Homo sapiens: one gene and its partners. The protein of the gene in region 5 purifies or fractionates together with the protein of the main gene of each other region. This does not show direct contact. Each region holds a gene or a part of one and is shown on either strand. Other genes may lie near its edges.

Region 1 (4,569 bases), on a different chromosome or scaffold from region 5:
TTAAAGAAATGCTCTGAGAAAGAAGCGAACATAAGACAGACAGCAGTGAGCACAAAATCCCTGCCAGGAGCCTTCACAATGAGACAGGGTCATGCTGCCACCATCTTAGAGAAAAACAAAATGCAAACGTTTCCTTCACTGGAGGTGAGGGGGAGGGAGAAGGAGGAGGGGAGTAGAGGTGAGCTAGAGGGACTTGTTTTTAGGAAGGAGGCTGGAGAGTGGGGGGCAAGGAGAGACACTGGAGGGATGTCAGGAAGCCTCAAACTAAAAAAATTAAAAATAATTAAATAATTAGAAAAAGATAAATTAGCCATCTCCCTCCTATAGCCTAGCATTGCATTTATAATAAACACATTACTAGAGAGAAGATTCTGAGAAAAGGCATTAGAGGCCATCTTCTTAAACAGTCTTTTCCGATGGGATCAAGCAGTAACCTAAAACCTTGCCAAGTCAAATACTTACCGTTCCGAGGTAACCTAAGAGTGAAAACTGAGGGGAAGCAGGGAAGCCCTGTAAAATTTAGTCTGAGACCAAAGAAGTAGTGAGAGGGCGGGCGGGAAGGGTGGCGCGAGGTGGGCGGGGGTGGGGGGGAGGAGAAAAAATCCTGCAAGGATTAGCAGAAGTGCCTGTTTCAGTTACATGCCGCGTCCACGTCCACGCGCAGAGCCGCGCACTGGCACATTCAGCGCCCTGCACAGAGCTCCCAGCGCCGGGCACTGAACTTTACTGGAGCCTTCAGGTTAAACAGGATAGAGAAGAAGGGTCACCCCCACTCCGGTCTTGTAGGGCTGAGGTGGGAACTTTTTTGTAAAACCTTTCACAAAAAAGAGAAGGAAGAGGCCAGGTGCAGGCGCAGAGCCCTCTTTCTTTGGAGACACCTCGTTGCTAATTAGCATTGGTTTGGCAAAATATTGCACTTCATCTTGGACTAGGAGAAAATGAGCGCTTTTGAAAAGGGCAAAGGTATGGCTCCTTCTTCCTCCTTCCTCCAGCGCTGTCAGCACTCGGCCTCAGCACTTTCTACCGAAGAGGTTCTTTCTATGGTTTTCCGGCAGAGTAATGAATTCAGGGAAATACAGCCGAAAAGAGAAGGGGCAAAGCCTTAAAAACAAAACCACAACAACCATAAAAGCCTTTATTTGAATTATAGAAGGAAGGAAGGAGAAGGAGAAAAAGAAAGAAAAGAAATCTAAAGGGAATAAAATGGGCTTCGCAGGTCGCCCCCAGGATTCCGTGGGTTTGCACCTCGGGACCGCACCGCGGGGGTGAAGGTGAAGACCTAGTGTATGGCCCCACGATTCCAGGAGACGAAGGAGAAATCGGAGACACCCACCAGACTTTGTAAGAAAACTTTTAATGACTGTGTGCCAGTCAGTGCGTTTTTAAACTTGTTCAGTGTTCGTGACTCCTTGCCCAAGCAAAGTAATCCCCCAGACCCCGGCCGCCACCTCTCCCCCACGCCCTGCCCGGGAGAATCCAGCTGGTCTCCCCACCCTCTCAGACCCCCTTCGGTCCCCACTCCTAGCCCCAGCCGATCGAGAATCTGGCGGTGGAAATTCCAGGCGCCGCCCCTCCCTCCCCCGGCCTGAACTCGGAGTTTGGGCGCCTTTGCCCCTTCCCCTCCCTTCCAGAGCCCTCTCCCGCCCAACCTGTAAGCCGGACTAGCTGCTCTGCAGTGTCTGCCGCCCCCACCCCCAGCACAGGTCGCAGCGCCCGGCATCCTCCCACGCTTCCCTCCTGCCCTGCTCGCCGCCGGCCCCCGGCCCCCGGCCTCCTCCCGCTCGGCAGTGGCTAGCAGCGGGGGAAGTCCCGCCTGCGGCTCCCAGACCCCAGCCCTTTGCAGCCTCTCTGAGTCCCCCATCGCCGCCTCTGAGCTCTCCCGTCGCCCTCCCGCCAATCCCTACTCGGTTTTGCTGCCTTCTATCCCTCCACCCCCAGCAACGCCCAGCTCCCAAGCCTCTTGGCCGGCCCGCCCTGCGACCCCCCAGTTCCCCGCTTACGGACCTTGGGATCTCCGCTGCCGCCGCCGTCGCTGCCACCGCCTGCTGTGCCCGACCCGCCGCTTGCCTCTCTCTGCCGTTCGCCCTGGGACGGGCGGACGGAGCTCGGCTCCGGCGGGCTCAGACCTCCCTGCTCGATTCTCGGGCGCGGGGGTCTGTGCTCCGCCGCCCGGGATCTGCCCGGGAGCCGTCCTGGAGCCCCAGGGCCGCGGCGAGCGGGCTCTTGGCCCGGCTAGGGAGAGGCCACTGCGTTGCGCTCTGGTAAGGGCCGCCGCGGCCGCCGCGAACTTAACTTTCACAGAGCAGGTCGCAGCCCCGCTGCTCCCTCCGCGTCAGTTCGGTCCGCGCTGCCTCAGCGCGGCCGCCCTTGCGGCGTCCGGCTCGGCTTGCTGTCCCCGGGCGAATCGCCTGACTCTCCCGCTCGGGTGCCGGCTCCCTCCGCATCAGGCCCCGACGGGACAGGGATCCTCGGGCTGCCGCGCACCACGGGAACGCTTTGTACTTGGATGCCCAAAGCTAATTCTCTGTGCTCTCTCGGCCTTGAGAACCTCCACGTTTAGAGGGCCGGGACAGAATACTACCACCCCCAGGCTTGCGGGGAATTTGGGAGCAGGGATGTTCAATATGAGGGCACTGTCCATAGATTCTCTATTCGGGGAGCTCAAAAACTAACGCCCTAGGGGTTGCAAGTCTCTGCACACTGGGTAGGGAGAAGAAGGGGTGGCTTACCAGAATTCCGGAGCTTCTTGTTCTTCGTCACAGCCAAAATGACCATGGAGTTGCCGATTAGGTCTACAACGATGGTGATAACCATCGCGCAGAACATAAAGATGATTAGAGCCGGTGGGTATTCTGGCTGGGGTAGCTTACAGCCAATACAGCCATAGGGGGTGGGAACCGCTAGGGTGGGCCCCATGTTGCTCCTGGGGATCGTTAAGATCTCCCAGCAGGCTCAGGATCAGCAGCCAGGTCCAGACAGCAAACACCTGTTCTGTCACCAGGAGCTCCAGGAAAGCGTGCCTCCCTCTCTGAGAGTCAGAGAGCAAATGACAGCATCCCGCCCCTCTCCGATGAGCTTTTAAAGCCTCAAGAGGCGGCTAGCCCCACCCCAAATCCCTCCCCCCGACCAATCAGACCTCCCTGAATACCCCCCCCTTGGCTACCCCCTCTTATTGGACAAATCCACATTGAGGTGTCATCTTGCTTCCGACTGCCTTGTATGTACTTCCTCTCTAGCCAGCCTGCCCTGCCTCTCAATCTCCCAGGTACCTTGCAAGCATCATGACTAGCTCGGAGTCCACCCCACACCCCCTCCACCAGCCCCTGTGCATTCGTTTCTAGCAAGTTCTTCTCCCTCTCTCCTCCAGTGCAAACACCTGGCAAAGAGATGTAGATTGCAGAGCCGGAGCACAGAGTCTTTCATAGGATCCAGTGCTAGACCAAGCCAGTCCACAGCCCCCAGCAGGGTATAGGGGATAGCCGGTGGCCCCTTGAACGCTAGATGCTTGCCTCTGCAAGTATCCTTGTGAGGTCCATCCCACGCCCCATGCCCTTGCCTGTCTAGAGCCTTCTGTGTCCCGCGGGGAACAGGGGACTACTGCTGGGAGCTCCCACCCCCAATCTGGGTCCCTAATCCCTAGGGAACTTAACCCCGCTCCCTTTCTCGCCAGGAGCCTCTTGGCTCCCTTAGCGGCAGCTGCGAGTAGCCGCTCAGTCCGGTCCAGGTCTTGCACTCTCCATAAAGAGATGTACCCTGCGCCCGACTCTGGAAGTGGGGAGCGGGTCTGCACCCTGGGACCTAGGGAAGGCATTGGTGGCCACTCGGTCCTCAGTTTGGGGGCGAACGGGAGCGGGAGCTCGTCTCCTTTCCAGCTGCCGGCAGCCAGGCGGCGGAAGCCAAGGGACGCTTTGGGAAAAAGTAAAACAGGCAATAAAGCTCTTCTCTTGGGTCCCCGCTTCTCAAGGAAACTCAGGACGAGAGGCTCTGACGCCTCTCCCTCTCGGGATGCTCGGCATTCTCTACTGAGCGGCACGGGGCAGTCAGGAAGGCTGAAGGAGCTGCGCCGCAGCCGCGGGAAAGGTGCGGAGGTGTCACGCGGCTAAACCAAGAAGCCTCTGGCTGACCGGCGATCCCTGCCTCAGTCAGGATTCCTCTCGGTCTTTCTCCTTTCCCATGCCCTTCTGGGGTTCTCGTTTCGACCCCATCCCTCTCAGGCCTCCCCCCTCGCCCTCCACACCGCGGATCTCTGTCCCCGTGCGTCACAGTTCCCCTGCGGTGCGCCCAGGATCTCGCTCCGCGGGGACCACGGAAAATTCGAATATTCGGGCAAAACTAAAGGGGCGTGATTCGGACACTCGTTCCCTCAATAACCTTGGTCACGGGAATGGATTTCTGCCGGCTACTAAAAGTTACGGCTCCTGTCGAGAAGCCTTTCAAAATCTCAGTAAACACCTTGAAACTTGTTCCAGACTAGTCTTCTTGCCACAGTAGGGGAGAGGGGTTGCACTGGCCGGGAGCGCCATCGTCTGGACACAGCAGCCCTCTTGCCCCGGGGTGGGTGGGGGGACG
Region 2 (4,127 bases), on a different chromosome or scaffold from region 5:
CCCTGGAAGAAAAGCATCAGAACTGCATGCCTTAGCAGTGCTTTCCCAACCTCTTTCATACCATGGCACGTTACAGAAAATTGTATTTGTAAGACACACTGGAGGAAACTGTTAAGGCTGCTCAAGGCAGGGCATCACTATCTCAGCATGCTTGCAGCACACCAATTGGGAAGCTCGGTCTTAAAAGGCCCTGCAAAATACTGCAAGAACTCTCTGACTCGTATTTTGTTTTCGTCTGTCTCATATTTTATTCTTACTTATGCCTACAGTTGTGAAAATACAACCCCTCAACATTTTTAATAGCAATATCCAAAGAAGGCCACAAGATGGAGATATTACTCCATTTTCATTTATATTTGTATTTATGCATTTTTTCTGTATACGTTTCTATGTGTATCCTGCTTTCTTCCTCAGTGGTATTCTCAGCTACTACCTCTATCTCTAACATTATTCTAATTCCTCTGCCACTCGGTTTTAACTTGCTTTATTATAGAAATATATAATGAATACTATCATGATCTTTGTTTTTAATATTAAAAGCAGGCAGATAATTGAAATATTTTCTTCTAGCTCTATATTTTCCCACTTCTCTAAAATTAAGATCACTTTTTTTTTACCCATTTTTATCCTGCGGGCAAACTTTTTTTAAAAAAATTGCTACCCACGAAGTAATAAGTAGTCCAAGAGTCATTTGCTCTAATACTTTCTACTACCTTGTAAAGCTACAGATTTATTACTTTGTGTCAATATCACTCAAAACTTCTCTGGGACTTTTCTTTGAGAACAGTCCTCAAGGCAGTCTATCAGCATTACATGAAATGTATATTCAGATCTTTTTATCAATACAAAGTATTTATCCGAGCTTGCTAACCTAATTTAGTCACCAAATTTAGCTCCAAATGACTGTTAGCTATAGCCAAAAATCAAACCCAACTTTAAGATTTACTACTAATGAGGCTAATGTGAAGAATATGCAGCAAGCTTTGAAGGCAATTCAAAACAAGAAGCTTCAGTGATGTTTTAAGAGACAGCAGCATGTTGAAAAACTGTGAAGCTTTCCACAATAAACACTTGCAAAATCAATCTAATTTACTTTAAGTTAAATCTTATATACTTCCAAACGTGTGATATAAAAAGTCACTCATTGATTGTGTAAAACTACTATAGAACTGCACAACATGGCTGTCATTTGAACTTTATCAAATGTCTAAACTAAAATGCTTTAAACATAAGAAGTTGGCCAGGCGCGGTGGCTCACACCTGTAATCCCAGCACTTTGGGAGGCCGAGACAGGTGGATCACGAGGTCAGGAGATCAAGACCATTCTGGCTAACACGGTGAAACCCCGTCTCCACTAAAAATACAAAAAAAAATTAGACAGGCATGGTGGCGGGCGCCTGTAGTCCCAGCTACTGGGGAGGCTGAGGCAGGAGAATGGCATGAATCCGGGAGGCAGAGCTTGCAGTAAGCCGAGATCGCGCCACTGCACTCCAGCCTGGGTGACAAAGCGAGACTCTGTCTCAAAACAAACAAACAAAAAAACACACAAGAAGTCTATTTCCTACTACATATAAAAGATCCATAAAGAAATATTGTATGATATAATTAAAACACAATTTCCAGACTTCCTACTTTATATATATTTATATTATATATACTTATATATTAATATATTATATATATTTATACATGTTAACTTCCGCAAATCAAACTTAATCACCAACTATCAATACAAAGCACCACTTTAAGTCAGAAAAGAACCTAAATAGTAATCTTATCTGTTAACGAAAAGTGTGGTAATTGAAAATAACTGCCAATAAGATTTGCAATTAAAAAAAATTTTCTAAAAGTCAGAGGTTTCTTTTTAAAGTATAAATTCAGTTGGTCATGGAATAGATTCCTTAACCTGACCTGTTTTAATGGTATAAATAAAGTCCTTAAGTATTGACTAGAAATAAGAAGTTTCTACCTTCCTCATGTGTACGGACCCTAAGATTTCTTCATGGTCTATTCATACTTTCCCAGTAAATGGCAACAATGATCTTTTTCTTTCTGGTCATAACTCATTTTGACTACTGCTCACTATACAGGCCACAGTTGAGTTTCATGTAACAGTTTAAAATTCTATTTCCTTCTATAACCAGGAGTTGTATGTATTCCAGAATGTGTTTAACCAAGGAAATTACGTCATTTTAGAATTCTAGTATTTGCTCTTAGTGGCATCTTAACGTTGCTCTTCTCCATTTTAACACTGCTGCATATACTATGGCATGTCCTTTAATTCTTGATCTTAGATTATTAGCTTTAATATTAAGCAACTCAAATATATTAGTTAACTGTGTAGCTGCACAGAGCTTAATGCCTACTGCCTCAGTAGCAATAAAACAGGCATCCATCTGATAATGAAGTATACTGTTTTATACACATATTCTAACAAAAATGTAGAACGTGGCATGCCCTTGCTTTTGCAATATGCCTGGTTACATGTGAGATTTCAGTTGCTGGATGATGTAATCAGAAACACTTATCAAATATGGTGAATGAATCCTCACCTTGCTTAATTTAGTATTACATAAGATGGGAAATGAAACATAAATTCTAGATTAAATTTCTAATTAGGTCCTTATGACACGCTTAGACAAAAAATTTCAGTAAATATAAGTAATACTCAAATATCAACTATTCAGTTCTTAAAATGAAATACTATGCTGTTATTTAAAACATGTAATCATATTTTTACATTCATTAGTATAGGGCCCATCTTTTACAATTAAGTGTTTTGATGAAAATAAAGATTTTTGAAAATATGACTGTGACTTCATTATAAAATGATCTAGGGTCCTGCTTCATCCAATCAGAAATCTCTCTTTCCACTGCAATTCCTTTCCTTTATTTTTGTATAACTCTGTAAGAAAGGCTTTGGAATTGTTTTCAACTAGGTGGAATTAACTGGTATCATTACTGTCTAAACAGACCCAATAATGCCCACAGTGGAAAACAGTTCTGAAAGTCACATAGTACCATTTATGGAATAAGCAGTTCACTGAGAGAGAGCATAACAAAGCTGAGAAAAGGTTTATTACAGACACTAGGCATTTTATCAAACAACTTTTATTGGCATTACTTACAACTGCCATATAAATTCTCCTCTCAGCAATCAAGTCAAATAACCTCAACCTCTGTTTTATTCTCAACATTGAACAAAATATGATTGTGAAATTAACCACATTAAACCAATCACTAGGTAAACTGGTAACCCATATAACGTTTTAGAATATATTTCTAGGAATAATTGTAATAGCAGAAGCCATTCCACTTTCCCAGTTCAACTTAGGCTATTGTCTATGAATAACAAAAGATACAATATTCTAAGAGTGTTCTCATAATTAGTGTAAAGAAAAAACTGAGAATAGCATAAAAGGAAAAAGGAAACTTAAAACTAAAAGAAAGTCTCTGTTCCATCAGCTCTAGATTATATGTGGCAAAATTTTCACAATAGACTTGCTTTATCCCATAAAATTGGCTCAGGCATCTTCCACTAAACTATACATATCACAAAAAGAGTGTGTACATAAGAAAACTAATTTTATGATAATTCTATCTGATGCAAAGATGTATACAATTAAACAAGTACTTATTCAGCTCTAACGCTATGCATGCCTACATCAGAAATATAAATGACTGAAAGGTTATCTACCATTCTAGATTCTGTGTATCTCTTTCTCCAAATTAAAAAAAATTGGATTCTACAATAAAAATGGGGAAGCTATTATTACACAACACACATGTACAAAGGAATAGACTCCACAGAGAAAGACTGAACTACACTCAACACCACAAGCTCAGTGGATTCCACTGCAAGAATCACTGGACAAAATTGATAATCACAGTACAAATTCACCATCATTCATGAATGAAATCATCATCTTCATTTCTAAAAAGGACTGTGATGGGCTTTAGGGAGGCCCCATTAACTGGTTTTTCCCATCCAAAAAACTGAGTGGACACAGGAGTCGGGCAGACAAGAGATGAACCTTTATAACTGATACAGCTATTGAAGAATACAGGTTAAATGTGATGGCCAAATGGGCTTGCTAGCAATTTGTGCCCTCTCCTCTACATTCTAG
Region 3 (4,898 bases), on a different chromosome or scaffold from region 5:
GAGCCACTACCCAAGAAGCTGCAGCCCAGTGGGGAGACAAATACGCAAACAAGTAATTACAGGGAAGAAACGAGTGGTGCAAACTCTTTGGCAGGAGCCTGAGGCAAGTCATTCTGACCCGGGTGAGGAAGGTATCTGCGAGGCAGACAGATCTGAGGCCGCGCCTTGATAAATTACAGGCCCTCCATACCAATAGTTCTCAATGGCTGAGGCGTAGGGCAAGAGTGTCAGAATCACCGGGGGAGTTCTTCCCCAAGTACACGTGACTGTGGGGAAAAGAAAGAGAGATCAGATTGTTCCTGTGTCTGTGTAGAAAGAAGTAGACATAGGAGACTCCATTTTGTTCTGTACTAAGAAAAATTCTTCTGCCTTGAGATGCTGTTGATCTGTAACCCTACCCCCAACCCTGTGCTCCCTGAAACATGTGCTGTGTCAACTCAGGGTTAAATGGATTAAGGGCTGTGCACGGTGTGCTTTGTTAAACAAATTCTTGAAGGCAGCATGCTTCTTAAGAGTCATCACCACTCCCTAATCTCAAACCACTCCCTAATCTCAAGTACCCAGACACAAAACACTGAGGAAGGCTGCAGGGACCTCTGCCTAGGAAAGCTAGGTATTGTCCAAGGTTTCTCCCCATGTGATGAAATATGGCCTCGTGGGAAGGGAAAGACCTGACCGTCCCCCAGCCCGACACCCATAAAGGGTCTGTACTGAGGAGGATTAGTAAAAGAGGAAGGAATGCCTCTTTGCAGTTGAGATAAAAGAAAGGCTTCTGTCTCCTGCTCGTCCCTGGGCAATGGAAATGTCTCGGTGTAAAGCCTATCTCTACTGAGATAGGGGAAAACCGCCTTAGGGCTGGAGGTGGGACAGGCTGGCAGCAATACTGCTTCTTAAGGCATTGTGATGTTTATGTGTATGCACATCAAAAGCACAGCATTTTTTTTTTTACCTTGTTTACGATGCAGAGACGTTTGTTCACGTGTTTACCTTCTGACCTTCTCTCCACTATTATCCTATTATCCTGCCATACCCGATAATGATCAATAAATACTAAGGGAACTCAGAGGCTGGTGCCGGCGTGGATCTTCCGTAAACTGAACTCCGGTCTCCTGGGCCCATTTTTCTTTCTCTATACTTTGTCTCTCTGTCTCTTTCTTTTCCAAGTCTCTCCTTCCACCTAATGAGAAACGCCCACAGGTGTGGAGGGGCAACCCACCCCTTCACGTGACAGATGTCCCAGCAGTTCTGACGCACCTAGGAGAGCGGGGTGGGTGGCAGGGCATATGTACGTGTTTTGAAAAAACTCCCAGTCGATTTTTGTTCATTCCTCCCCCAAAACCCGCGTTCTACACGCCCTTGAGACGACGGGACATCTAGAGATCCTGGAGCCTTGGGAAAATGGCCCGAGGTCGGCGGCTGACGCGTTACTATGGATACTCCATAGCTTGGAGGGCCAGTCGGGCCACACCCTTTGGACGTCACCCGGAGCCCACAGGAGCACCTGGCAAAAGCCAGGCCCACTTCCTGCTCGGCTCCGCCCAGAGCAGGGGGCGGGCGGATAGGCGATTCCCTCCAATCACAGTTCCAAAAGGAGGGGGCTGACAACATATCCTCCAATCACAGCTTGAAGTGAGATTGATGTGTCTTTTCACCAATCACCGCCAAGGCGCGAGGGGGTTGTCGGGATGGGGGCGGGAGCCAACATAGAGCCCTCAGTGGGATGAGGGTGAAACTGCTATTGCCGGCGGCTCCTGTTTTACCGCGTCAGCATGCTGGTGCATTTATTTCGGGTCGGGATTCGGGGTGGCCCATTCCCAGGCAGGCTGCTACCGCCCCTCCGCTTCCAGACATTCTCAGCTGTCAGGTAAAAACGGAAAAACCTACTCAGAGCGGGCCATTGACCGCCCGGCAGGGCAGTGCCGGCCCGCCGGGAGATGGAGTCCACGAGCTTGCGCGAGGCTTGCTGGGAGCTGTAGGCCAGGCCTACCGGGGTGGAATGTCACTCCGCGGGTGTTGGCCTCAATTATTTATAGTGACACTCCAGTCGCCAGCAGGAGGCTCCTGCGTCTGCAGCCGCGTGTCAGCCAGAAGGAGGGGACGCTCGGGGTCAGTGACCACGCCCAGTCCGCACTCCCGACCGGGGGTCCCCTTTCCTGGCCCTGGAGGTGATTGCGCGATTTGGACGAAAATTCTTATTAGTATGAAGAGACATTTAATGTAGTGGTGCTTCCAGGATTCAAAGTGAGTCGAAGAAGAACTAGAGATGTTCAGCAGGGATAAAGAGCCAATCTAATAGGCCGGGCGCGGTGGCTCGCTCCTGTAATCCCAGCACTTTGGAAGGCCAGGAGTTCGAGACCAGCCTGGCCAACATGGCAAAACCTCGTCTCTACTAAAAAATACAAAAATTTGCCGTGATTGGTGGCACGCGCCTGTAATTCCAACTACTTGGAAGGCTGGGGCAGGAGAATCGCTTCAACCCGGGAGGCGGAGGTTGCAGTGAGCTGAGATCATGGCCACTGCACTCCAGCCCGGGTGATAGAGTGAGACTCTGCCTCAGAAAAAAAAAAAAAAGAGTCAATCTAGTAACTTGTACATGTGTGTTTTTCGCAAAACACTCTACACAGGTTGGTCGAGAGAGAGAGACAGACAGACAGACAGATGGGAAACAAACAAGGACCCTGAAACTACAACTCGAATGTAAATGCTTTATGAGAAGGGACTGATTCCTTTTTTTTTCTTTTCTTTTCTTTTCTTTTCTTTTCTTTTTTTTTTTTTTTTGAGACAGAGTCTCGCTCTGTCACCCAGGCTGGAGTGCAGTGGCATGGTCTCGACTGACTGCAACCTCTGCCTCCTGGGTTCAAGCAATTCTCATGCTTCAGCCACCCAAGTAGCTGGGATTACAGATGTGCACCACACCCGGCTAATGTTTGTATTTTTAGTAGAGACGGGGTTTCATCATATTGGTGGGCAGACTGGTCTTCAACTCCTGACCTCGGGTGATCTGCCTGCCTCGGCCTCCCAAAGTGCTGGGATTACAGGCATGAGCCACCTCACCTGGCCATCCTTTCTAATCCTAGAGTGAATTACTTGGGGGCCAAACAGATAGAAGATTCCCAAGGGCAGGTGGATGTGGAGTTGTGTCATTTGGAAAGCCCATCTGACTGATGGAGGGCAAGAGCTGGATCGAGCTGGAGCTGGAAGTCTTGGTACTGGGAAGTAATCCACATGCTCTTGGCAACGACCAAGACTTTCTTAGAGTCTTAGTTTGGAGACAATGCAAGAAGCTGGAAAAAGACCATGCTAAATTATTGAAAGGTTTAAAAACAGTTCTTAGGAAAGAGTAAGGGTGTTGATGTTATTTAAACCAGAGAGAAACCCAAGGAAAGACATAAAATAATATTCAAGTATATATGTGTTCATTAGTCAGTATTTTTCAATAGATTATGAAATGCATTTAGTTGGTCAGGACCATTTAAAAGTAAATATAGGCTGGGCACGGTGGCTCACGCCTGTAATCCCAGCACTTTGGGAGGCCAAGGCAGGCGATCACCTGAGGTCAGAAGTTTAAGACCAGCCTGGCCAACGTGGTGAAACCCCGTCTCTGCTAAAAATACAAAAATTAGCCAGGCGTGGTTGCACGCACCTGTAGTCCCAGCTACTCGGGAGGCTGAGGCAGGAGAATTGCTCAAACCTGGGAGGCAGAGGTTGCAGTGAGCCGAGATTGTGCCATTGCGCTCCAGCATGACAGAGCAAGACTCCGTCTCAAATAAATAAATAAAAGTAAATGTAGGCCAGGCACAGTGGCTCACACCTGTAATCCCAGCACTTTGGGGGGCCAAGGCAGGCAGATCACTTGAGGTCAGGAGTTCAAGACCAGCCCGGCCAACATGGTGAAACCCCATACAAAACTTAGCCGGGTGCGTTGGCTCACGCCTGTAATCCCAGCACTTTGAGGGGCCGGGGCAGGCAGATCACTTGAGGTCAGGAGTTCAAGACCAGCCTAGCCAACATGGTGAAGCCCTGTCTGTACTAAAAATACAAAAATTAACCAGGCATGGTGGTGGGCGCCTGTAGTCCCAGCTACTCGAGAGGCTGAGGCAGGAGAATCGCTTGAACCTGGGAGGTGGAGGTTGCAGTCAGCCAGCATAGCACCACTGCTCTCCAGCCGGGGCAAAAGAGTGAGACCCTGTCTTGAAAAGAAAAGAAAAGAATCAGAATACATGTTAAGAATTAGAGAAAATGTTATTTTGTGAAGCATTTCCATTTTGTGTGGCATGTATGTGTTCATTGTACTGGGTTGCAAGTAAGATATGTTTCTTGCTGTAGGCCACAGTAAGTCTAAACATTTGCAAAACCCTGTAGTAGTTAGGTCAGATTGTCCTGCACCTCTAATGAGGGCATGCATGTGCTCAACAAGCATAAACATTTGCGGAACATCTATTATGTACCGGAGTTCTGCCAGTGCTGTCTAAGATATAATTTCCTGCCTTTCAGAAACACATGGCGTAATGGGAAAACTGGACAGTTACACAAGGCAGAAGGAGAGTAAGCGTCTCTATCTTTCTAATAGAAACAAGAACACAGTGGAAAACAAGACATAAAAACCTGGCAGTTGGAATGGGGTGGGAGAAGGCCTCATGTAGGCAAAAGGCACAGGCCTTCCTGAAAGCAGGGGAAGGATGAGATGAAGACTGCAATTAGAAGGGTCTAGGGATGTGAAAGGCCATGATGGTAAAGAGAAAAGCTCACACTACTCTTTTTTTAAACCTTTCCCCATCAGTAAGCTTATCTAGATCTTCTAGATCTCACCATCCTCTCCTGGCTGGATAACTTCTGCTCCCTACAACCAGTCCTGTCTGCCTCCAGCCCATGCCCCTCTGCTATGATCTTTTTTTTTT
Region 4 (4,127 bases), on a different chromosome or scaffold from region 5:
TACATTGAGTAGTGCTCCCTCTGCTGGCCTTCTAAAAGTATGGCATGAACCCACTACATATGTACATAATCTGGTATGACCAAAAGCTGACTTCAGGGTGGAAAACTGAAGAGTTTTATTTTAGGAGCTCCTACAAACCACATACTTTATGGTAGCAACTTTTCTCCCATACGGTAATGAGTGGACATAAAGTATGAAATTTTTAGGGTGCCCAGATATCCTTAACAAAAATACCTCCCTTTTATCCAACAAAAAAATTCTCTCTACCAAGGAATGTTTAAAAACAATATATTTCACTAAAAAGTAAAAAACATGTATACATTCTTTCAAACAATTGTACTTTTTGTTGAGACAGGGTCTCACTCTGTTGTCCAGGCTGTAGTGCAATTGTGATCACAGCTCACTGCAACCTCAAACTCCTGGGCTCCAGCCTTCCTCCCACCTCAGCCTCCCAAAGTGCTGGGACTACAGTCATGAGCCACCACGCTTGGCCAGCATGGTACTTTTTAACCATGTAGCTTTTATAATTTTTTATTTCTTAGTGATGTTATGGAATGTTGAAGAAAACACAAATTTTAATTCATACTGGTTCCATATTCCTTTCTGCACATTATTCCATGTATTTCTCATCATGCTGAAAATATTTTAAGCTTACATTTGAAATAGAAATTTGAACACAATACTGCAATAATTTCAACAACTATTTAGCTTAAAAAATATAGTTTTCTGTGGTATTCCTGACTTCCTATGCTTATTAAGTCAACCCAGCAATGTTGCCATATTCATAGTTTTTTAATCAGTAGGTTCAAATGATTTTAAAAACTGTTATTATGTTACTTTTTAAAGTTTCAGTTCATTAGATACAAAGATAAAACACCAGCCTGACTACCAGCCCTACCAGCCCTGTTCTTGGATTATTTTTTTCTTTACATAAAATAGATGGGGTCTTGCTATGTTGCCCAGGCTGGTCTCAAACTCCTGGGCTCAAGCGATCCTCCCGTTTCAGCCTCCCAAAGTGCTGGGATTACAAGCATGAGTCACCACATCTGACCCTTAGATAACTTCTATCTGTTCTGTGAATAAGGGATTTTACTTACACAGCTACTGTGTAAACATGCTATGTGGTTCTAAAGGAAAACACAGATATGAGGGTAAAGAACAAAAATTCAAGGGTAAAAGGTCTTTAATTTGGACTCAGATAAGCATTAAGCTTCATTTTTAAAACACTAATGAAAAATACAAATCTATGTTTTTTTTTTTATTCACTACCTCTTCTGTATTGGGCCAAGTTGAGAGAGAGGTAAGAAACACATACCGAATACCAGAAAGTCTCCTAAATGGGACAAGGACAGTGGAAAAGAACTCTTCAAATCATCCCCAAGAAAAAGCAGTACATACCTCTGGAAGAAAGCACTCTCTGCAGCGGTTAGGAGACCTTTCAGGTATCCACCTTTGAAATGGGTAATTCTGCTGCTGCAAGGGAGCTTCTTTGGTTTGAAGCAGAACCAGGGCTCCCCAGTGTAGAGGTCTGTAAAGTTACACAGGGGCAGATTCCCAGGAAGACACACGTTGCACTCAGTAGTTTCAGAAATTCTTCCTGAACGGAAGAGACTCTTGAAATAGACCCTGTCTGGTTTATCTTCCTGTAAGCGCTGAAGAACTCTGATCCCTTCACTGGGGTGGACCAGAGATACGGATACTTTAACTTTGCCTGGCCATAGCAAAGTAAAGAAAACCTTGTAAAACCCATTCTGGTAATCCACCACCCTGCCCACAGCCCCAGCCTGCAGCTTGAGGGAGTGAATTCTGGCCTGCAGGTAGTCTCCACCATACTTCTTGGGCTTTCTTTGAAAATCCTGCACATGAACCAGCACCTCAAGCTGGCTTCCCACCTTAAAGAAGGCAGCAGAGTTCAAGATGACAAAGTAGCTGGAAGAAGGGTCAGTGCTCTTCACAAAGGGGACTGGGCCCACATCAGGAACCTGCCGGTGCAAGGCAGCCAGCAAGGAGTCCTCCTCCATGCGCTCCTGGCTGGACAGGGTCTGCTGATCATAGCCACAGTAGGGATTTCGGCTAATTCCTGTCACCTGGGAGGAAACAAACTGTCCACTGCTGTCGATGAAAGTGGCTGAAACAGTCTCATGGTCCAAGTACTGAAGAAGAAGACACAAACAACAGAAATTACCACTATAATAGGTCTCTGTATTTTGGCATAAATTCAGAGGGCTCCCCACACTTCTGTGAGTTTTAGCTCCAGGAGCTCAATCAGATTCTCACAGTGAATATCAAAGAAAAATCCCCTTGGGCTTCCGGGAAGAGAAAGGGAAAAGGACCCATTTTGAAGTATGCAGAGCACTGTGTTGTTCTTAACAAAGCTGCCCCTCAAGAGAAACCACTTTATCAGAACCTAGCCTATTGGAGTTTTATCAGAGCCTAACCAACTTGAGAGAAGGGAAATATCCAACTCCAGCCCACTCGAGCCACCCAGTCCAACCTAAGATGGAGAAACACCAAGAAAAAAGTAAAGGAATGGAGAAAGATATACCATGCTAACACTAATCCAAAGAAACCAGTAGTAGTTATATTAATTTCAGACAGAGCAGATTTCAAAGCAAGGAAGGTTAGCAAAGATAAAGAGGGTCATTACATAATAATAAAGGAGTCAATTCTCCAAAAAAAAAAACAACCCTTAACATGTATGTACCTAACCAATGAGTATCAAAACATGTGAGGCAAAAACTAATGGAGAAATAGATGAATCTACATTATAGTCTGAAACTTCAACAATCCTCTATCAGAAATACACAGATCCAGCAGGCAGAAAATCGGTAAGGACATAGTTGAATTCAACAGCACCATCAATAAACTGGATATAGTTGACATCTGTAAACTACTTCATATCAAGCTCACATGGAACATTCACCAAAACGGACCACATTTTGGGCCATAAAATACACCTTAAAAATTTTTTAAAATAAAAATCATACAGTGTCTTCTCTTAAGCCATAATGAAATTAAACTAGAAATCAATAATAGAAAGAGAGCTGGAAAAATCCCAAAATGGTATACAAATGGGTAACATACAAAATCTCATGAGAAATTTAAAAATATGTTAACTAGGTGAAGGTGAAAATATAATTCATTAAACACTATAGAATGAAGCAAGAGAAGTGCTTAGAGGGAAATTCATAGTACTATACATATTTTAGGAAAGAAAAACAACCTAAAATCAGTAATTTAACCTTACATCTTAGCAAACTAGAAAAAGAAGAGCAAACAATATCCAAAATAAGCAGAAGAAAAATAATAAACATGATAGCAGAAATCAATGAACTTGAAAACAGGAAATCAATAAAGAAAAATCAATGAAACCCAAAGCTGGTTTTTTAAAAGATTGATAAAATTGATAAGCCCTCTACCCAGGCTAAGAAAAAAAGAGGGAGGACACAAATTATTAATATCAGAAATGAAAGAGAAGCCATCACTACAGATCCCATGGACATTAAAGGAATAAAGGAATATTATGAACAATTCTATGCCCATAAATTTGATAACCCAGATGAAATGGACCAATTCCTTGAAGGATACAATCCATAAAGAATGCACCTAATGATGCAAAAGTAATATTATAACTAGTGGAAATCAAATATAAAAGAATGAAGTAGGCCAGATGCGGTGGCTCACACCTGTAATCCCAGCACTTTGGGAGGCCGAGGCAGATGGATCACAAGGTCAGGAGTTCAAGACCAGCCTGGCCAACATGCTGAAACCCCATCTCTACTAAAAATACAAAAATTAGCTGAGTGTGGTGGCAGGCGCCTGTAATCCCAACTACTCGGAAGGCTGAGGGAGAGAACTGCTTGAACCCAGGAGGCAGAGGTTGCAGTGAGCCAAGATCGCGCCACTGCACTCCAGGCTGGGCGACAGAATGAGACTCCATCTCAAAAAAATAATAACAAATAAATAAATAAGAATGAGTAGGGCTTTCTTCATCACTTAGAGCAGGAAGTTAAGATATATTATGCTGTTGGGGAAATAAAAGGACTAGATACATTATTTAATGTTATATATAGAAATAAAATTAATTTTACAAATTGTGGAAGGAGAATGAAGCAGAGGCCTCATCT
Region 5 (3,798 bases):
CACCACCTCATAAAGATATCTGCTTTCCTGTTTATTATAACACATCTTTATTCATAATAGCCAAGATACGGAACTAACTGAAGTGACCATTAACAGATGAATGGATAAAGAAATTGTCATATATATAAAACACACACATTATATACATACATACATATATATATATATATAAAAAATAGAATATTATTCAGCCTTGTAAAAAGAAATCCTGTTATGTTGGGAACAAGCCCCCCAAAATCTGGCCATAAACTCACCCCAAAACTGGCCATAAACAAAATCTCTGCAGCACTGTGACATGTTAGTGATGGCCATAACACCCACGCTGGAAGGTTGTGGGTTTATGGGAATGAGGGCAAGGAACACCTGGCCTGCCCAGGGTGGAAAACCACTTAAAGGCGTTCTTAAGCTACAAACAATAGCATGAGCGATCTGTGCCTTAAGGACATGTTCCTGCTGCAGTTAACTAGCCCAATCTATTCCTTTAATTCGGCCCATCCCTTCATTTCCCATAAGGGATACTTTTAGTTAATTTAATATCTATAGAAACAATGCTAATGACTGGCTTGCTGTTAATAAATACATGGGTAAATCTCTGTTCTGGGCTCTCAGCTCTGAAGGCTGTGAGACCCCTGATTTCCCACTTCACACCTCTATATTTCTGTGTGTGTGTCTTTAGTTCCTCTGGCGCTGCTGGGTTAGGATCTACCCGACTGAGCTGGTCTCAGCACTGTTATTTGAAACAATGTAAATAAACCTATAGGGTTTATTATATATACTAAGTGAAATAAGCCAGACACAGAAAAAAAATGTTGCATGATCTCACTTATAGTGAAACTTAAAAAAAAAACCCAAATACATAGAAATAGAGTAGAATGGTGGTTACCAGAGATGAGGAAAATACAGAGACACAGGTCAAAAGATACAGAGTTGCAGTTACAAAGGGTGAGTATGTCTAGATATCTAACATACAGTATGAGGACTATAATAGTATTGCACTGTGTACTGAAAACTTGATGACAGATTTTAGATATTCTTACCACACAGACAAAAAGAAATGTAAGTATGTGAGATGAAGCTTATGTTAATTAGATTAAGTGTATGTACATAAAAACATCACATTATACACATCAAATATATACAATAAAAAAGCACATTGGGAGATACATGATAAATTTCTATCTGCAGTTGCTATTTGCATTTTTAAAGGATATTTTTATTTTTTAAATTTTTAGCTGACAACTGTATAATTATGGAATACAATGTGATGTTCTGATATATGTGTACACTATGGAATGATTAAATCAAACTAACATTTCATCATCTCACATACTTATCATTTTCTGTGGTGAGAACATTTGAAATTTATTCTCTTGACAATTTTGAAAGATCCAATACACTATTATTAACTATAGTCACTATGCTGTGCAATAGATCTCAAAAGCTTATTCCTCTTAACTGAAACCTACTACCCTGTGACATGTGGGGAACATCTCTCTATTCCCCAGCCCCAGTCCCTAAATGTTGAATACACAATGGGGAAAAAATAGTCTTCAATGAATGGTGGTGGGAAAATTGTATATCCACATGCAGAAGAATAAAATTGGACCCTTACCTCCTACCATATATAAAAACCAACTGAAAATCGATTAAAGACTTAAACTGTAAAACTACTAAAAGAAAATATAGGGAGAAAGCTTCACAACGTTGGTCTGGGCAATAATTTTTGGATTTGACCTCAAAAGTAGATGCAACCACAGTGAAAATAAACAAATGAAATTGCATAAAATAAAAAATGTTTCTGCACAGCAAAGGAAATAATTAATGGAGTAAAGAGACAACTTACAGATTGGGAGAATATATTTCCAAACTATTGTTGGGGCTCAGAAACGGATACCCTAACATATAGTGATTTGACAGGTGGAACTAAAGAAGACTCGAGGTCTCTCTGACCTCCTCCTCAACCTCTGTTTCTTAATCCTCTGTTTTCCCAGAGCACAGGAGGAAGTTCTCTGAAGTTCCTTTATCTGCTTTAAGTTCAGACTCACCAAATAAGAAAACAGTTAATTCTGGTGCCTTCCATGGGTTTTCATTAACTGAAGTCATATTGTAGGAAAAAGAATGAAGTCTCTTAACCCACCTGGATAGATTTTTCTCACAAACCATTGTCTTCTCTGCAAGCCCAGTAGACTTTGTCCCAGGCCATTTATGTGATCTTCACCCCATTAAGTTCTCCCCAAATTATTTACTCTTCCCCCAAAATCACCCACACTTCCCCATCTCCCTCTCCCCTAAGGACAAGGGTATATCACCATCTATACCCCATTGCTTGGTGGGGTGATCACTCTGATTCTCTGCATGCATTTTTATAGATTTGTTTGCCATTTATCCTATTAATCTGCATTCTGTCAATTGTGGCAAGTTATCAGCATATTTTTTAACTTTTAATTATTCTTAATGGAAAGACACTTCTGTATACACTGGAAATCTCAGGAAATTTCTTTTTTCCTTAAGCTTAATTGAAATGTTTACTTTTCAGTAAAATTTCAAGCTTGAGTAATGTTCATGCCTGCTTTTCATTGAAATAGAATGAAAAGGTTGCACAATATTATTTTCATGAAATTACTTCTAGTATAATTCTGAATAAACACTTTGAAAGGCAGTGAACTGTAAATATATTACAGCTATCTCTTATTCTTCAGGGTGGGTCTCAATTATGTAAAAGATGATTGGCTTTCTGTTTTAAGTAATAGTCATTTTGAAAACACTTTAAAACTGTCAAGTGAAGTGTGATGGCTAATTTTATATGTCAACTTGACTGAGATAAGGTATACTCAGCAGGGAAAGCATTATCTCTGGATGTGTCTATGAGGGCTTTTCTGAAAGAGATTGATGTTGGAATCACTAAGCTGTGTAAAGATGATCTACCTTCACCAATGTTGGCAGGCATCATCCAATCCGTGCAGGTCTTACCCAAACAGAGCAAAAAGTCAGGTAGGGTAAATTTATTCTCTTCTAAAGCTAGGGCATCCATTTCTTTCTACTCTCAGACATTGGAGTTCCCCAGTTTCCCAGACCTTTGGCCTTACACTGAGAATTATGCTTTGTTTTATTTAGGCATATTTTAATAATACTTCATGTATTGGTCAGGAAGACATTTCCTGGTTCTAAGGCTTTCGACTCAGACTAGATTACAACACTGGCTTTCCTGGTTCTCTAGCTTGCAGAAGAGAATACTAGGAAGCTTGTACTTCCTACATAGGTAAGAAGAGGAAACAATCTCTGGCTTAGAAACTATGTAACCAACCACAATTCACAAAGATTCCATAATTTCCTTGGCAGGAGGCTAAGATCTAAAGCCCAATATGATTGTACTTCTCTTATCAGTTTTCTGCAAACAAAAGAGAATAGAACTAAAATACAGCTTTGTTAAAATAATGTTGATTCATTTGCATGAAATATCAGATCACAGAAAAAACATATTTTTATAAAATATGAGCTCTGTCACACTGGCCCTCATAGACACATCCAGAGATAATGCTTTCCCTGCTGAGTATACCTTATCTCAATCAAGTTGACATATAAAATTAGCCATCACACTTCACTTGACAGTTTTAAAATTAGGTTGTTTTTTCCAAATGACAAAAAGCAGGAGCAAACTGCAAGTGCTCCTGCAACACATCTAACAAGAAAGCCTTATCTGACTTTTATGAGGTTCGGTATAATGCCCAAACTGCATATTTCAAACTCTTGCCATCAGATTCACCTAAGAAGACAAAAGATCTATTGCCTTTGAACCTA
Region 6 (3,768 bases), on a different chromosome or scaffold from region 5:
TAGAAATTATGCACCTCCAAATGTGTGCAGAGCTCTAGGCTTCTGAAAGCTTAATTGTGTTCCTTGAGGGAAGCAGCAGTACCCCTGTTTTCCATGGTCCTCCTTGCTAATTATGGACCTGTTTAGCGTCCTTCCCCCCTTTTCTGGCTAGCACTTGTTCATCTATTCAGCAGGCACTTACGAAGCACCACGAATGTGACAGGCAGGTGTGGGGCCAGGCTCTGTGAGGAGTGAAGGGGGGTCTGCCCTTGACGGGCTCATGGTCTTGCAGGAAGGTGGACCAGTGACTGTGTAGATCTGAGAAGCGGGAAAGGGACTAGGAAAGGAAAACTGCACCTTCCCAGGACAGAGCAGGCAGCAGGAGCATTTCCCAGGGGCACAGAGTAGCACGGCGGTTTGGAGATGCCGCGGGGAGCTGAATGGTATGGTCAAGTGTGGCACCAGCTGCCAGACCCTGGGACCCTGGGACTCTGGGACCCTCGGAAGCAGACCCAAGAGTTGAGCTGCCCTCCTCTGGGAGATGCATGGGGTCTACTGGATGTGAAGCAGGAGAGTAGGGAGGGACATGGCCGGACGGATGCTTTGGAAAGACCATGGGGGCAGCACATGGAGAAGACAGTTGGAGGACTGAGCCGTGGACAGGGAGACCAGCAAGGGGGTTGTTTGCACATCCAGAAAAGGACAGGGCCTAAACCAGTGCAGGGTGTTGGGGCAGGAGCCAGGGATAAACTGGCCCTGTGACAGCAAACCTGCAGGGTGTGGTTGACCAACATCACTGACTGGACCCAGAGGCCGAGGGCAGAGGGGGCAAGGGTAACTTGAGGTTTCTGCTGCTATCTGATACCTTTTGCCAACACTAGGCATTGCCTTCCTTTTGTCTTAGGTTGGCATCAACAAAGTCTTTGCAGAGGTGCTGCCTTCGCACAAGGTGGCCAAGGTCCAGGAGCTCCAGAATAAAGGGAAGAAAGTCGCCATGGTGGGGGATGGGGTCAATGACTCCCCGGCCTTGGCCCAGGCAGACATGGGTGTGGCCATTGGCACCGGCACGGATGTGGCCATCGAGGCAGCCGACGTCGTCCTTATCAGAGTGAGCGTGGCTGCAGCCAGGCTGTGGGTGCTGGGAGGGCAATGGGCAGACCCCTTCCTCACTGTGTGCTCCTCTCCATCAGAATGATTTGCTGGATGTGGTGGCTAGCATTCACCTTTCCAAGAGGACTGTCCGAAGGATACGCATCAACCTGGTCCTGGCACTGATTTATAACCTGGTTGGGATACCCATTGCAGCAGGTAGGCAGCTCTTACCCACTGTGCTCCAGCTGCGCCCAGAAAGGCTTCTGTCTCCCAGGTTCCTGCTGGGGTTAGTGAGTGGCTCACTCACTGGCTGGCTAGAGGCGTTTTAGAAAGGCTGTTTTTTTTTTTTTTTCATGTCCCCTGCTTTATATGTCTTTAAATGAGAAACTGTGGAGAGGACCTGAAACCTTCATTCACTCTGGTCCTTTCTAAAAAGCTAGTGGAGATGCTTGGCTGTATTTTCTGATCCCTATTTTATTGTGGCCTTATTTTCTGAGCCATTTGTTAAGTCATATAGTCTGAGAAATAATCATTAGTAAGAATTATGGGGCATCTGCTACATGCTAGGCACAATTATTGGTGTTTCAGAACCTTATCCTGAACATTAATCCTGCCCAAGTTTCACTCTGAGTTACACAAATGATCATGGAAAGAAATGGCTCTTTGACCAGGCATGGTGGCTCATGCCTGTAATTCCAGCACTTTGGGAGGCTGAGGCAGGAGGGTCATTTGAGCTCAGGGGTTCAAGACTCACCTGGGCAACATGGTGAGACTCCATCTCTACAAAAAATTTTAAAGTTAGCTGGGCGTGGTAGCGTACACCTTAGTCCCATCTGGGAGTACAGAGGCTGGGGCAGAAGGATTTATTGAGCCCAGGAGTTGGAGGTGGCAGTGACCCATGATCGCACCACTGTACTGTAGCCTGGGCAAGAGTGAAACCCTATCTCAGAAAAAAAGAAAAAGAAAAGAAATAGATTTTTCTGCTTTGTAATTCCCCCTCATTCCCCCTCCTTAAGAACCATCTCTCCCCCGCCCCCTGCTCCCTGCCCCCTGCCCCCAGGAACATGGCAATGAAAAGTTCCAGAGTGCTCCTCCATGGGCTGAGGAGAGATCAAGTTTGTAATCACAGCATTCCTGCCTCAGTCTCCCTTGTGTCTGAGTGGTTAGTGGTGACTTGTGTAACAGGGCCTTGGCTTCCTGAGCCCAGTGAGTCAGGCAGGTTTACTTCTTGTCCCCAGAGCCGGCTCAGGAGCTTAATTCCCCCAGTGTATGTGCCTCTGCCACACAAAGTTGACCATACCTGTCTCCTGACCCTGTCCTGGGACCTGGCTCTCATTCCTCTTCTAAAGATGTCATGAAGCCCTGGAGGCGAGATCATCTGCTAGAGAAGGACTGTGGCCCTCAGCCGTGTTTGTCCTCTGTGGGACTGTGGCTACAGGATGGGCAACTGGCTCCCTCAGCTCCTGCCGCTTTTCTCCTCCCGCTCCTCCCACTCCTTGTGGTTTGTCGCTGCCCTGGAGCTCGCCCTGAAATGGGATGCCACCTGTGGGTGGTTCTGGGAACATCAGGGCGAGTGGAAGAGAGCCAGGCCCACTCAACAGCATCCCACACCCAGCTTTCTAGGAAGCCTCACTTTGGGGGGGGCCTGTGGGCAAGATCCATTGGCAGGGGCTTCTGAGCACGCCAGGTGGAGACCTCACTGGGGGCCGCTGAGGGTGGGGCAGCCCGGTGCCTGAAGCCCTCTCCTGGCTCCTCTCCCCAGACCTAGGTGTGAGTGCGAGTTCTTTCTTCCCCAGGTGTCTTCATGCCCATCGGCATTGTGCTGCAGCCCTGGATGGGCTCAGCGGCCATGGCAGCCTCCTCTGTGTCTGTGGTGCTCTCATCCCTGCAGCTCAAGTGGTGAGTCCCCTCAGGTGGAGCATCTGTGGGAGGCTCCCAGGAGGCCTTGTCATTCTGCATGCTTAGCACAGTGGAACTTGCCTCTCATTTCCCATTCATTCACCTGGGACAAATGCTGCAGTGGCAGCCCACATGGAGCCTGGTGTGCATGCATGTAACTTATCAGCACCATGAGCAGGCAATTCACTGCTGCCCATTCACGTGCTGGGCTGCCCTTACTCTGCTCCTCAAGGGCTGTTTATGTGAACATCAAGCAGACATGGGTCCCTGTGTATGATCTATCACTTTTTTATTTAAAAAAGATGTTCACTTATTTATGAGTGCATTCATTTAACAAAAGTTAGTGGCAGCCTACAATGTGCAAGGCATTTGCTTAGGAAGTTTCTAAATCAGGTGAGCTTTCCTGGAACCATAGGGAGTTTAATGTCCTTTTCCTTGGAAACTCTTGAGGTTTTGATACTGAATGTTATTAAAAGATGGATGAGAGGCCTTCACCAGGCTTAGAAAAAAAAAAAGCCTTGTTTCTAGAATGGCTCAGATGCTGTTGCGTTCCTGCTTTCCAGCTATAAGAAGCCTGACCTGGAGAGGTATGAGGCACAGGCGCATGGCCACATGAAGCCCCTGACGGCATCCCAGGTCAGTGTGCACATAGGCATGGATGACAGGTGGCGGGACTCCCCCAGGGCCACACCATGGGACCAGGTCAGCTATGTCAGCCAGGTGTCGCTGTCCTCCCTGACGTCCGACAAGCCATCTCGGCACAGCGCTGCAGCAGACGATGATGGGGACAAGTGGTCT
Region 7 (4,127 bases), on a different chromosome or scaffold from region 5:
GATGAGGCAGAAGAGGGAGGCAGAGAGATGTGAAACAAAGGACTCCACCCATAGTTGCTGGCTTTGAAGTTGGAGAAAGGGAAACATGAACCATGAACCATGAACCATGAAATGCAGGTGGCCTCTAGAGGCTGAGAACAATCCTCAGCCAGCAGCCAGCAAGGAAATGGAGACTCAGTCCTGCAACCACATGTAACTGAATTCTGACAACTGGAAAGAATCTGGAAGCCGAATCATTCCCAAAACTCTAGAAAGAAACTCAGCCCTGGTGACACTGATTTCAACCTTGTGAAACTTGGAGCAGAGAAACAGCTGAGTCACACTGTGCCCTGACTTCTAAGTTAACAAAACTCTGAGATCAGGGTACAAACAAATGGGCGTTGTTTTAAGCCACTAAATTTGTGGTAATTCGTTACAGGAGCACTGGAAAACTAATACTCTTTATTTAATCACTGACTTCAAATATGCTCTGTCAAATCTCATTTTTCTATTAAGAGATGTAACTTTGAACAGAGTTCATACATTTCCAGTCATACTCAATTACTATAAAATCCAGTCTAATTTACTTTCCCCAAACTAATTTTGAAAATGTTTAAACCTACAGAAAATTTAAAAGACTAATACAATGAATACTCTTATACCCTATACCTACCTATATTTATCAACTGCTAACATTGTTCTAATTTATTTGCCTTTTCACTCTTCCTAAATATACATAAATACTCCCCCGCCCCCCACCCTCTCCTTCTCTGTATCAGGCATTCTAAACTGTAGATGATTTTGCCCCCCAGAGGACAACTTATCATCAGGAAAATGAAATTAAAACTACAATGAAATACCAACTCACACCCATGAGAATGGCCACTCTTTAAAAAAAAAAAAAACACACACAAATGTCTGGAGACATATCTGATAGTCACTACTGGGGGAATGCTACTGATATCTAACGGGTAGAGCCCATGGATGCTGCTAAACATCCTGCAACACCAAGTCCCACACAATTATCCAGCCCAAAATATCAATAATGCTGAGATTAAGAAACCCTGCTTTCTGTATATGTATATACAAACATTTTTTTCCTGAACCATTTGTAAGTAAATTACAGACATTATGATACTTTTTACCCTAAAGGCTTTAGTTTTGGCTGGGCATAGTGGCTCACGCCTGTAATGCCAGGACTTTGGGAGGCCAAGGTGGGCCGACTGCTTGAGCCCAGGAGTTCGAGACCAGCCTGGGCAACATGGTGAAACCTGGTCTCTACAAAAAATACAAAAACTAGCCAGGTGTGGTGGCACAGGCCTGTGGGCCCAGCTATTTGGGAGGCTGAGGTGGGAGATCGCTTGAGCCAGGAAGGCTAGGTTGCAGTGAACCATTGAGCCATGATGACGCCACTGCACTCCAGCCTGGGTAACAAAGCAAGACTTTGCCTGAAAAAAACACTACAGTTTATATTTTCTGAAAACCAGAACACTATCCCATACAGCACAATTTAACATTGATACAATACTACTATCCAATATGTAATCCATTTTCAAATTTCCCCGTAATCTAAAAAAAATCCTTTATGGCTTTTTTTTAAAAAAAAATACAGGATCCAATGAAAGGTACATAGGATGGCAGCCTGATCAACATTCTAGATTTAAAATAAATAAGGAGTCCCAATTTTCAAGCAGTGGGGGACAGGGAGTAAAACTTGTGGCACTAGCTCTAAGATCTAATAATAGTCTATGACTCTGATACTATGCTACATCTGAAATGGATGTACTAATTCAGAAGCTTGTTAATACATTAAAATCTCTCTTGGAAGAATATCTTCAAACATGTTTACCCTGTTCTTAAGAAAGGGGAACTCTGCTCACAATAACACATAACCCTGTTGAATAAATATCAATCTGAAACAACAAATCAAGAAGGAACTTTCTCCAAAGAAGATATACAAATGGCCAAAAAGCATATGAAAAGATGTTCAACACCACTAATCATCAGGAAAGTGAATAAAAACTAAAACAAGGTATCAGCTCACGCCCGTGAGAATGGTCACTCTTAAAAAAAAAAAAAGAAAAGAAGTGCAGACGGGGATGTGGAAAAATTGAAACCCTTGTGTATTGTTGGTGGGAATGTAAAAGGGTAAAGCCACTTTGGAAAACAGTATGAAGGTTGCTAAAAAAATTAAAAATAGAATTACCATGTGATCCAACAATCCCACTTCTGGATATACAAAAAAATTGAAAGCAAGATCTCAAAGAGATATTTGCACTCCCATGTTCATTGTAGTACAATTCACAATAGCCAAGAGGTAGAGGCAACCTAAATGTTCATCGACTAATGAATGGATAAAGGAAATGTGGAATATACATACAATGGAATACTATTCACCTTTAAAAAAGAAGGAAATCCTGTCATAATCTACATGGGTGACATTATGTTAAGTGAAATAAGGCAGTCACAAAAAGACAAATGCTGTGTGATTCCACTTATATGAAGTATAAAGCAGTCTAATGGAAACAGAAAGCAGAATGTGGTCACCAAGGGCCAGGGGCAGGAGGAAATGAGGAGTCGTTCAATGGGTAGAGTTTCGACTTTGCAGGATGAAGAAGTTCTAGAGATCTGCTGCACAGATCTTTGTTGCTGCACAAAGTGCATAAAATAGTTAATACTACTATACTATATGCTTAAAAATGGTTAAGATAGCAAATTTTATGTGCTTTTGACCATAATTTAAAAAAACAAAAAATGAAACAGAAAAAAATAACCACCATTCCATGATCACACCTAAGAAAGATAACTATTTAATTTCATTAAATACCCAATCAACAACAAAAAAGGAATTGCTTATTTTCAAAGATAAATTCATTTACTAATATTTTGGGTTATTAAAACATGCACATTGCAATATCCTGGTTTTCTAAACTCGCATACTTCGTAGATTAAAAAGTTTTAAAGGAAAATTATTTGCAAATGATTTGAACATCTAGAAATGAATATGGCCAGACATAGTAGCTCATACATATAATCCTAGCATTTTGGAAGTCCAAGGTGGGAAGGTGCACTTGAACCCAGGAGTTTGAGACCAGCCTGGGCAACAAAGCAAGACCCTGTCTCACAAAAAAAAAAATAAATAAATAAATAAAAGAAATGGATATGTTAAAAATATTAACACTTTATCTTTTCTTTCTTTTTTTTTTTTTTTTTTTTGTTTTGAGACAGAGTCTCACTCTGTCACCCAGACTGGAGTGCAGTGGCGTGATCTTGGCTCACTGCAACCTCCAACTCCCGGGTTCAAGCTCTCCCACCTCAGCCTCCCAAGTAGCTGGGACTACAGGCACATGCCACCATACCCGGCTATTTTTTGTACTTTTAGTAGAGACAGGGTTTCGCCACATTGGCCAGACTGGTCTCAAACTCCTGACCTCAAGTGATCCACCTGCCTCAGCCTCTCAAAGTGCTGGGATTACAGACGTGAGCCTCCGTGCCCAGCCGACAACACCTTACCTCTTCAATCAGACAATGTAAAATGATGGTATTTAACAGGATGATATAGTGTTGCTTTTAGAAACAACTTTTAAAAATAAAAACAATAAAATGTACCTAACTGCTACAAAAAAAGAAAACTTTCATGGAGAATAAAAAATAATACTATAATCCATCAAGATGAAAAACTGGGGCACTCCACAAAAAAACCTGCACACAGATGTTTATGTAGCAGCCTTATTCATAATTGCCAAATACTGGAAGCAACTAAGATGCCCTTCAGTAAGTGAATGGATAAACTGTGGTACACCCAGACAACGAAATATTATTCAGCGTTAAAAAGAAATGAGCTATTAAGCCATGAAAAGCCATAGAGGAGACGTAAATGCATATTACTAAGTGAAAGAAGCCTATTTGAAAAGGCTACCTAAAATACTACGTGATTCCAACTAGATGACATTTTAGAAAAAGGCAAAACTATGGAGACAATAAAGACCAGTGGCTTTTGGGGGCTCAGTGGGGACAGAAGGATAAATAAGCAGAGCACAGATTTTTAAGGCAGTGAAACTACACTCTATACAATAATGATGGATACATGTCATTATGCATTTATCCAAACACACTGAATGTACAACACAAAGAATGAACTCTAATGT

Evidence for each region.
Region 1: the proteins of CLEC2D (region 5) and GPR50 purify together in Homo sapiens (affinity purification with mass spectrometry; 2 studies listed by BioGRID and IntAct, with this or other methods). This does not show direct contact.
Region 2: the proteins of CLEC2D (region 5) and DNAJC1 purify together in Homo sapiens (co-immunoprecipitation; 3 studies listed by BioGRID and IntAct, with this or other methods). This does not show direct contact.
Region 3: the proteins of CLEC2D (region 5) and ABCB8 purify together in Homo sapiens (affinity purification with mass spectrometry; 2 studies listed by BioGRID and IntAct, with this or other methods). This does not show direct contact.
Region 4: the proteins of CLEC2D (region 5) and NXPE3 purify together in Homo sapiens (affinity purification with mass spectrometry; 2 studies listed by BioGRID and IntAct, with this or other methods). This does not show direct contact.
Region 6: the proteins of CLEC2D (region 5) and ATP7B purify together in Homo sapiens (affinity purification with mass spectrometry; 2 studies listed by BioGRID and IntAct, with this or other methods). This does not show direct contact.
Region 7: the proteins of CLEC2D (region 5) and DIPK1A purify together in Homo sapiens (co-immunoprecipitation; 3 studies listed by BioGRID and IntAct, with this or other methods). This does not show direct contact.

The regions. Positions count from the first base shown.
Region 1 is NC_000023.11:151,175,069-151,179,637, reverse strand, and holds the start of GPR50 (melatonin-related receptor), read right to left. Parts: upstream 3,055-4,569; 5' UTR 2,917-3,054; coding exon 2,730-2,916; intron 2,262-2,729; exon of another isoform or gene 1,802-2,261; intron 1-1,801. UniProt on the Homo sapiens protein: G protein-coupled receptor that plays a role in numerous physiological processes including regulation of energy metabolism, neurite outgrowth or cell migration.
Region 2 is NC_000010.11:21,993,269-21,997,395, forward strand, and holds part of DNAJC1 (dnaJ homolog subfamily C member 1 precursor), read right to left. Parts: intron 1-4,127. UniProt on the Homo sapiens protein: May modulate protein synthesis.
Region 3 is NC_000007.14:151,026,747-151,031,644, forward strand, and holds the start of ABCB8 (mitochondrial potassium channel ATP-binding subunit), read left to right. Parts: upstream 1-1,703; 5' UTR 1,704-1,720; coding exon of another isoform or gene 1,721-1,769; coding exon 1,770-1,864; intron 1,865-4,494; coding exon of another isoform or gene 4,495-4,545; intron 4,546-4,898. UniProt on the Homo sapiens protein: ATP-binding subunit of the mitochondrial ATP-gated potassium channel (mitoK(ATP)). Together with pore-forming subunit CCDC51/MITOK of the mitoK(ATP) channel, mediates ATP-dependent potassium currents across the mitochondrial inner membrane.
Region 4 is NC_000003.12:101,799,261-101,803,387, reverse strand, and holds part of NXPE3 (NXPE family member 3 isoform 1 precursor), read right to left. Parts: intron 2,154-4,127; coding exon 1,399-2,153; intron 1-1,398.
Region 5 is NC_000012.12:9,696,883-9,700,680, forward strand, and holds the end of CLEC2D (C-type lectin domain family 2 member D), read left to right. Parts: 3' UTR 1-2,671; downstream 2,672-3,798. UniProt on the Homo sapiens protein: Receptor for KLRB1 that protects target cells against natural killer cell-mediated lysis. Inhibits osteoclast formation. Inhibits bone resorption. Modulates the release of interferon-gamma. Binds high molecular weight sulfated glycosaminoglycans.
Region 6 is NC_000013.11:51,934,795-51,938,562, reverse strand, and holds part of ATP7B (copper-transporting ATPase 2), read left to right. Parts: intron 1-883; coding exon 884-1,087; intron 1,088-1,169; coding exon 1,170-1,287; intron 1,288-2,867; coding exon 2,868-2,970; intron 2,971-3,533; coding exon 3,534-3,768. UniProt on the Homo sapiens protein: Copper ion transmembrane transporter involved in the export of copper out of the cells. It is involved in copper homeostasis in the liver, where it ensures the efflux of copper from hepatocytes into the bile in response to copper overload.
Region 7 is NC_000001.11:92,951,196-92,955,322, forward strand, and holds part of DIPK1A (divergent protein kinase domain 1A), read right to left. Parts: intron 1-4,127.